Linked DNA regions of Homo sapiens. Changing the gene in region 1 together with any one later gene gives a genetic interaction. Each region holds a gene or a part of one and is shown on either strand. Other genes may lie near its edges. The genes, in order: EHMT1 and SUV39H1.

The links.
Region 2: changes in EHMT1 (region 1) and SUV39H1 together harm fitness more than expected from each alone (negative genetic interaction), as found in Homo sapiens cells (one large-scale study listed by BioGRID).

The regions. Positions count from the first base shown.
Region 1 is NC_000009.12:137,810,692-137,814,504, forward strand, and holds part of EHMT1 (histone-lysine N-methyltransferase EHMT1), read left to right. Parts: intron 1-769; coding exon 770-924; intron 925-2,314; coding exon 2,315-2,482; intron 2,483-2,694; coding exon 2,695-2,839; intron 2,840-3,739; coding exon 3,740-3,813. UniProt on the Homo sapiens protein: Histone methyltransferase that specifically mono- and dimethylates 'Lys-9' of histone H3 (H3K9me1 and H3K9me2, respectively) in euchromatin.
Region 2 is NC_000023.11:48,706,462-48,709,557, reverse strand, and holds the end of SUV39H1 (histone-lysine N-methyltransferase SUV39H1), read right to left. Parts: intron 3,061-3,096; coding exon 2,931-3,060; intron 2,122-2,930; coding exon 1,988-2,121; 3' UTR 542-1,987; downstream 1-541. UniProt on the Homo sapiens protein: Histone methyltransferase that specifically trimethylates 'Lys-9' of histone H3 using monomethylated H3 'Lys-9' as substrate. Also weakly methylates histone H1 (in vitro).

The DNA.
Region 1 (3,813 bases):
GTAAAATTTTTTGTTTTTTTTTTTGAGACAGAGTTTCGCTCTTGTTGCCTAGGCTGGAGTGCAGTGGCACGTTCTCGGCTCACTGTAACCCTCTGCCTCCCGGGTTCAAGCAATTCTCCTGCCTCAGCCTCGCAAGTAGCTGGGATTACAGGTGCCCACCACCACGCCCGGCTCATTTTTTGTATTTTTAGTAGAAACGGGGTTTCACCATGTTGGCCAGGCTGGTCTCGAACTCCTGACCTCAGGTGATCTACCTGCCTTTGCCTCCCAAAATGCTGGGATTACAGGCGTGAGCCACCATGCCCGGCCCAAAATTTTAATTTAATCAAATTTGCACGTCCTTTTTTCAAATCTTTCAAAAGCATTATCCTATCCTATGACTATACCCCTGCTTGGAAATGAATATAATTTTTAAAAATACATGAAAGAAAAGTGCCTCCAAGTGTTAATATGTTGAGTGTAGGTTGATATAATTCTGGATGACCTTTTCCCTATTTTTATTCTTTACTGTGATTATGCTACTTTTATAATTATGTTATTTTTACAATGAAACAAACAAAACATGAAACGAAGTGCCTTCCAGAGTTGAGATGGGCGCTAGGTTCCCATCCGGTGACCTGTGGCACCCTTTCCACCTGGCCCTGCTGCGGACGGCCACGCATGCTCCAGAGCCTCTCCCCGGGCACATGGGCTGCAGCTGCTGTGGCCCAGCCCCAGCACTGTGAGCCAGCAGGAAGCCTGCACTGAGCTCTGGCTTGTGTCTGTTCAGGAGGAGAACATTTGCCTGCACTGGGCGGCGTTCTCCGGCTGCGTGGACATAGCCGAGATCCTGCTGGCTGCCAAGTGCGACCTCCACGCCGTGAACATCCACGGAGACTCGCCACTGCACATTGCCGCCCGGGAGAACCGCTACGACTGTGTCGTGTGAGTGCAGTGCTTCCCCCAGCGCGGGCTGGCGCTGACCTGACCTGGGCGCCCAGAGAGACCGCTTGACAGTCTTGTGTTCACACTTGGGGCGTGAGTGGACACAGGCCCTCTGTTCCTTCGTGTGGAAGTCCATCCTTGGTGTTCCACACGCAGAGAAGTGTCTTTCCCAGTCCACGTTTGAGATCAGCTGTGGTTTATTTCTGGGTTAGGGAGGATTGTCATGAAAAAATTCCCAAGTTGGAGTCTCAGACCTGATACTCCTCACATGGCTGAGGGGCAGCATGGGAACAGCCCTGCTCCCAGCAGGGACCTGCCAGCTCAGAGTCCCCGAGAGGCTCAGGGTGCCTTCTGGGAGCAGTGCCACCCACAGCCAGGGCTGGAGTTGCTGGGGGCTGTGGCACTCGCCACTCAGGGCCCTTTTAAAACTTGAGACCTTCAGCTGGGTGGTGGTGGCTCACGCCTGTAATCCCAGCACTTTGGGAGGCTGAGGCAGGCAGATCACCTGAGGTCAGGAGTTTGAGACTAGCCTGGCCAACATGGTGAAACCCCATCTCTACTAAAATACAAAAATTAGCCGGCCATGGTGGCATGTGCCTGTAACCCCAGCTACTCCAGAGGCTGAGGCAGGCGAATCGCTTGAACCCAGGAGGCAAGAGATTGCAGTGAGTGGAGATTGCGACGCTACACTCCAACCTGGGCGACAGAGTGAGATTCTGTCTCAAAAAAAACCCAAAAAACAAAAAAAGCTTGAGACCTTGATCCCATAAAGTCATCCACACTCAGGTTGTTGTTGGTGGCCTGGGATGGAGTGTGTGTTTGGCTGCTGGGGAAGGACAGGGAACTGTGGGTGCTCCAGGCACCAGCCTCCAGTGACTCCCTGGCCCCTACACATGGGGCTGTGCCCTCCCACATGTGGATCTCACGGTGGCTCAGCCAGGTTGGTCATCTGGTTGTGTGAAGCCCAGCTCCACGTACGATGACTGCAGTCTGGATGCAGTGAGCAGGAGTGGAACTGAGGACTGCTCACGCTGTGCGTGGCCCAAGCTTGGCCTCTCTCCCTCCTTGCTTCCCTTCTTATCCTTGAGGGTAAATTTGAATGAAAAATCCAAGAAAAATCAAATGCCGCCCTGGATTTTACACTCTTCCTGCTAAGAAAACAGCCTGCTGACTTTGACAGTGAATGTGGGAGAGGAGGAAGGGAATCATGTTCCTGGGTGAGCTAAAGCCCGTCTTTGCAGAGTCATTGCTGAGCAGACTTGTTCAAGTTATCTCACAGTGAATAGTGTTCCCTTTATTGTTAGTGATGACGGACATTTTATAAATCTCATCTGTATCACATTTTCAAGTCAGCTTTAAATGTTTTGTGGCCTTACATTTTCCCTTTTAGCCTCTTTCTTTCTCGGGATTCAGATGTCACCTTAAAGAACAAGGAAGGAGAGACGCCCCTGCAGTGTGCGAGCCTCAACTCTCAGGTGTGGAGCGCTCTGCAGATGAGCAAGGCTCTGCAGGACTCGGCCCCCGACAGGCCCAGCCCCGTGGAGAGGATAGTGAGCAGGTGAGCCCAGCCCCAGGACGGCTTTGTGGCAAATCAGCGGTCAGCAGGGCTTTGGGAACTTGCGGTGAAAGCTGCTCCTGAAGCCGAAACATCCCCAGGCTGCAGTCCAAATTGTCAGGGCCAGGTGTTTGCCAGCCGCCCCACTGCACGCTGTGCCACCCCCTGGGCAGAGCACGTCAGCCACCAGGTGACACCTGTCCTTTCCATGGCAGGGACATCGCTCGAGGCTACGAGCGCATCCCCATCCCCTGTGTCAACGCCGTGGACAGCGAGCCATGCCCCAGCAACTACAAGTACGTCTCTCAGAACTGCGTGACGTCCCCCATGAACATCGACAGAAATATCACTCATCTGCAGGTGAGTGACGGCAGATGAAGGGCTGACTCAGGCCAGGACATGGGACAGGCAGAAGCTTCTTGAGCCTGGGGTCCTGGGTTCTCACCACTCAGAGCAGGAGGGCTTATGGGGGGCTTCCCAGGAAGACCTCATTCTCTTTGTAGTTGCCTCCCGTGAAAGAGCTGGAAGGCAGATAAAGGTTCTGTCAGGCCCAGCCCTGGGCCCTCTCATTGCTCTTCCAAGGCTTCTTACCGACCCAAAGCAGTGGCAGGCATCTTTGTGCCTTTTTTGTAACCTCACACTCAGGGGCCCCGGTGTGGCTTCGTGCTGGGGGCACAGGCGAGAGGAGCCCTTGCGAGGCCTGCAGGACGACCTGGATCCCTGCACCTCCCAGCCCCCGGAGAGATGGGTCCAGCACATGCCAGCTTTCCCAGCCTCCGAGTGCATGCAGCCTGGTGCCCTCACTGCTTGCGCCTTCTCGAGCACTTTCCTTGTGGCTCTGCTTGTGGGCAGCTCCCTCCTCTTCCCAGGCCGGGCACTGCCCAGGCCCCCCCCCCCCCCCGCCCCCCGCCCCACAAGGTGTGTCAGGCTCTGTGTTCTTGCCTTTCCCATCGAGCATCTGGCCACAAATGCAGCCGCCGCCCAGCCCTTCACCCACCCCACGTCACCCACTGCCGCGTCGCTGCCCTGCCTGCCCCCTGTCCCTCTGTCAGGGTCCTCAGCCAGAGCTCCCTCCCACAGGCACTCGACATGTTTCTGCCTGCACAGCCTTCTCCCTAAGAGGCCACACACTCACGTGGTGCCTTTGAGAAGCACTTACCAGAATCAGGGTTAACAGAACTGGAAGACGTAGTTGTGACTGGGAGGGGAAATGGAAGGCCTGTGCCTGCACGTCTGACCCCCCGGCGCCTCTCTTCTCAGTACTGCGTGTGCATCGACGACTGCTCCTCCAGCAACTGCATGTGCGGCCAGCTCAGCATGCGCTGCTGGTACGA
Region 2 (3,096 bases), on another chromosome or scaffold:
GGCCAGTCTAAACCAGTCAATTTAATTGCATTGTTTTGAGACAGGGTTTGGCTCTTTTCTGGAGACAGACAGGCTGGAGTGCAGTGGTGAGATCTCAGCTCACTGCAACCTCCACCTCCCAGGCTCAAGCAATCTTCCCACCTCAGGCTCCTGAGTAGCTGGGACTACAGGTACAGGCACATGCCCCCACACCTGGCCAATTTTTGTATTTTTAGCAGAGACGTGGTTTCACCATGTTGCCCATGCTGGTCTCGAATTCCTGAGCTCAAGCGATCTGCCTGCCTCGGCCTCCCAAAGTGCTGGGATTAAAGATGTGAGCCACCACACCCAGCCTTAAGTGCATTTTAAAGTTTAAGTATAAAACAAACTTATTTTAGGTCAAGATGTTATATAGATGATGGTGTAAGTGATATGCTGTGGGGGCTGAAATTGTGAGGATTAGAGTCAAATGGCTGAGGTTTGAGGAACATGTTCCTGGGCAAACCCAGCTCCCAGCCTCTATCCCCTCAACCCCCACCCACACAAGCACCTCACATCTTGGTTTGTTCAGTCGACAGTTCATTTTATTGATGCCCACTCCAGGCTGCATAGGGTTGAGGGGTGTACAAGAGGAGAACCAGATTCAGTCCATGCCTGGAGGTTAGTCTGGGGGGCCGGCGGGATGGACACACAGACAGACACATAGATCTGGCATCTGATAGCAGGGCATACAGTCTCATGTAGGGGCACTCTGGGCACAGGTAGTCAGGAAGGACTTCCTAGAGAAGTCCTCACAGGGGGTGGGGGAGCAAGGAGCAAGGCAGCCATCAGAACCTTCGCCTTTTGTACATTTGTAGGCAGGTGACTTTTGAGACCAGTGGAACCAGGGTGAGCACAAAGGGCTGGGGTCTGGGAATGGCAGGCAGCAAGGGCTTCCCTCTCGCCTCGTCATCCCATAGTGGGGAAGCCATCTCCCCCACCCCCAATTCTTGGCCTGTACTTTGCCTTCTGCCACATGGGCCCTTTCCTGGCATCCACCTCCGTGGTTTTCAAGGCTTCCCTGAGACAATCCACGTGGACCAGGTGCTCTACCCAGTGCCTGGCACCTCATCACCACCCCATCAATGCACATTCTTGTCCTAAGTGCTATCTACGGACTATCTAGATCTTGGTTCCAGCTCTGAGTGGTGTCAGCGGTCATGACACCCCAGGTCAGGGCCCCTAGCAACCGCAGAGCTCCCAAGAGCCCTAGGTACCTTCACTGCACTGTGAAGGCAGAGCTTGGTCCCAGCCTACCTCCAGGGCTGGCCAGCTCTGCACTGCCTTCCTCTCACTGCTCAGTGGCCCATGGACACCCACTTCCCTTCCAGTGGCATGTGGGCATCCACTTCTCAGATATGCAGCCCTGAAGAAGAGACCCTACAGCTCTTAGGGCCAACACTACCCAGCACTGTAAGCACGAGCAGAAACCAGCCTCAGCCCGTAGCCCAGGGACCCCCTTTCTTTCACTAGTACAAAGTTTCTGTGGTTGGGGAACCAGCTTCATGTCGGGCTAGGCACTCTGGCCTCTGATGTCTGCCTGCTCTGGGGTTGCTTCCCCATACCTTTGGGGCAGCAGGGAGGAGGCCTGCAGCAGACCCCTCAATCTCCAGGCAGAAGCAGGTGCAAAAACAAATATATTCTGGGGCTGGGTTGGGACTCACCCCTTGGACCTCCTTAATAGGCCATGAATCCCAACGACAGAGAGTCTTGATGTTGAAAAACTATTTCTGAAGGTGGGTGGGGGTTTGTAAGTGCAACCCACAGATGGGGCTGGGACAGGGAAAGGGGACTCCTGGAGTCGGTCCTCACCACGGCCACAGCCCTGAACGTAGAGCAGGTAGGAGCAGGTGGGGGCAGGTGGAGGCAGGCGAGGCCCTGGCAGTCATTCTCGACAGGAGGGCAGCAGTGGGGGAGGTGCATGTAGCTTCAGGCCCCCTCAGTCAGTCTGGCCTCAGACTTCTAAGGGCTAGAAGAGGTATTTGCGGCAGGACTCAGTCCCACACTTGCATTCAATACGGACCCGCTTCTTAGGGGAGCCAGGGAGCCCAGCCAGGCCAAAGTTGGAGTCCATGCGGGTGCTCTCCATGTCCACGGGGTCCACTGTGGAGTCACAGCCAGGGAGGAGAGGAGGGAAGGAGGCAGGGAGGGAGGGGGAGAAGGAGGGAGGGAGGAAGGTAGGGAAGGAGGCAGGGGACTTGTTAGAAGGCCTGGATGAAGGGTCCCACTACCCTTTATACCATGAGACCAAGGATCTTTGGGGCTGGGAGCAACTCTGGGATTTGAGTTGGGAGATCTTAGGGTTGGTGGTTTGGGGCTAGGGCCAGGGCTCAGCACTGGAGGTTGTTCAGGCCAGGGGTTGAAGAATGCTGGGGGAGGCAGGGAGCCGTCAAGGAACCAGGAGGGTCGTTTTAGGTGTGTGGGGGGGGGCAGGGGCAGGAATAGAGGGCCACCTGGGCATCCAGAGGTACATCTGAACTCTCCTGCCAAAGACCTGCCCTTGAGGGTCTCAGAGGTGGCTAGCTTATCAAGGAGGGGACTGGCTGGAGGCCACAAGGGTGTCCAGAGGCTTGGGATGAAGAAGGCCAAAGGGAGCTAGGAGTGGGGAGGGGCTGGGGGATGAGGGAAACTCAGTCAAGACTGGAGTCAGGAGTTTCTTAACTCTCCAGGAATCTTGGGAGAAGTTGGTATGAATGCCTCAGGGTTAGGGTTCAGGGGCTGGGAATGAGGGGACTCGAGGGGTAGGCAGGGGTCTAGTAGTCCGAATGGGGGACTGGGAGTCAGGAAGAGCATCTTAAAGCTCCCGCTAAAGAATTTTCCTTGGTTCTCTGAGTGACTGGTGTGCCTTTGGGAGGGGTCCTTGTGTCCCAAGTCACAGTGCGCCCCTGCCCCCAGTCCCTTGCCACCCCCACCTTGCATGTTGTAATCAAAGGTGAGCTCCTCGCCTGCCCGGATGGTTCTTGTGGCAAAGAAAGCGATGCGGGGCAGCCGCTCGTCAAGGTTGTCTATGAAGACGTTGTACACCTGCAGGTTGGGGTCACACTGGGCGAGAAAGAACAGTTGGGAGAGTGAGGAGGG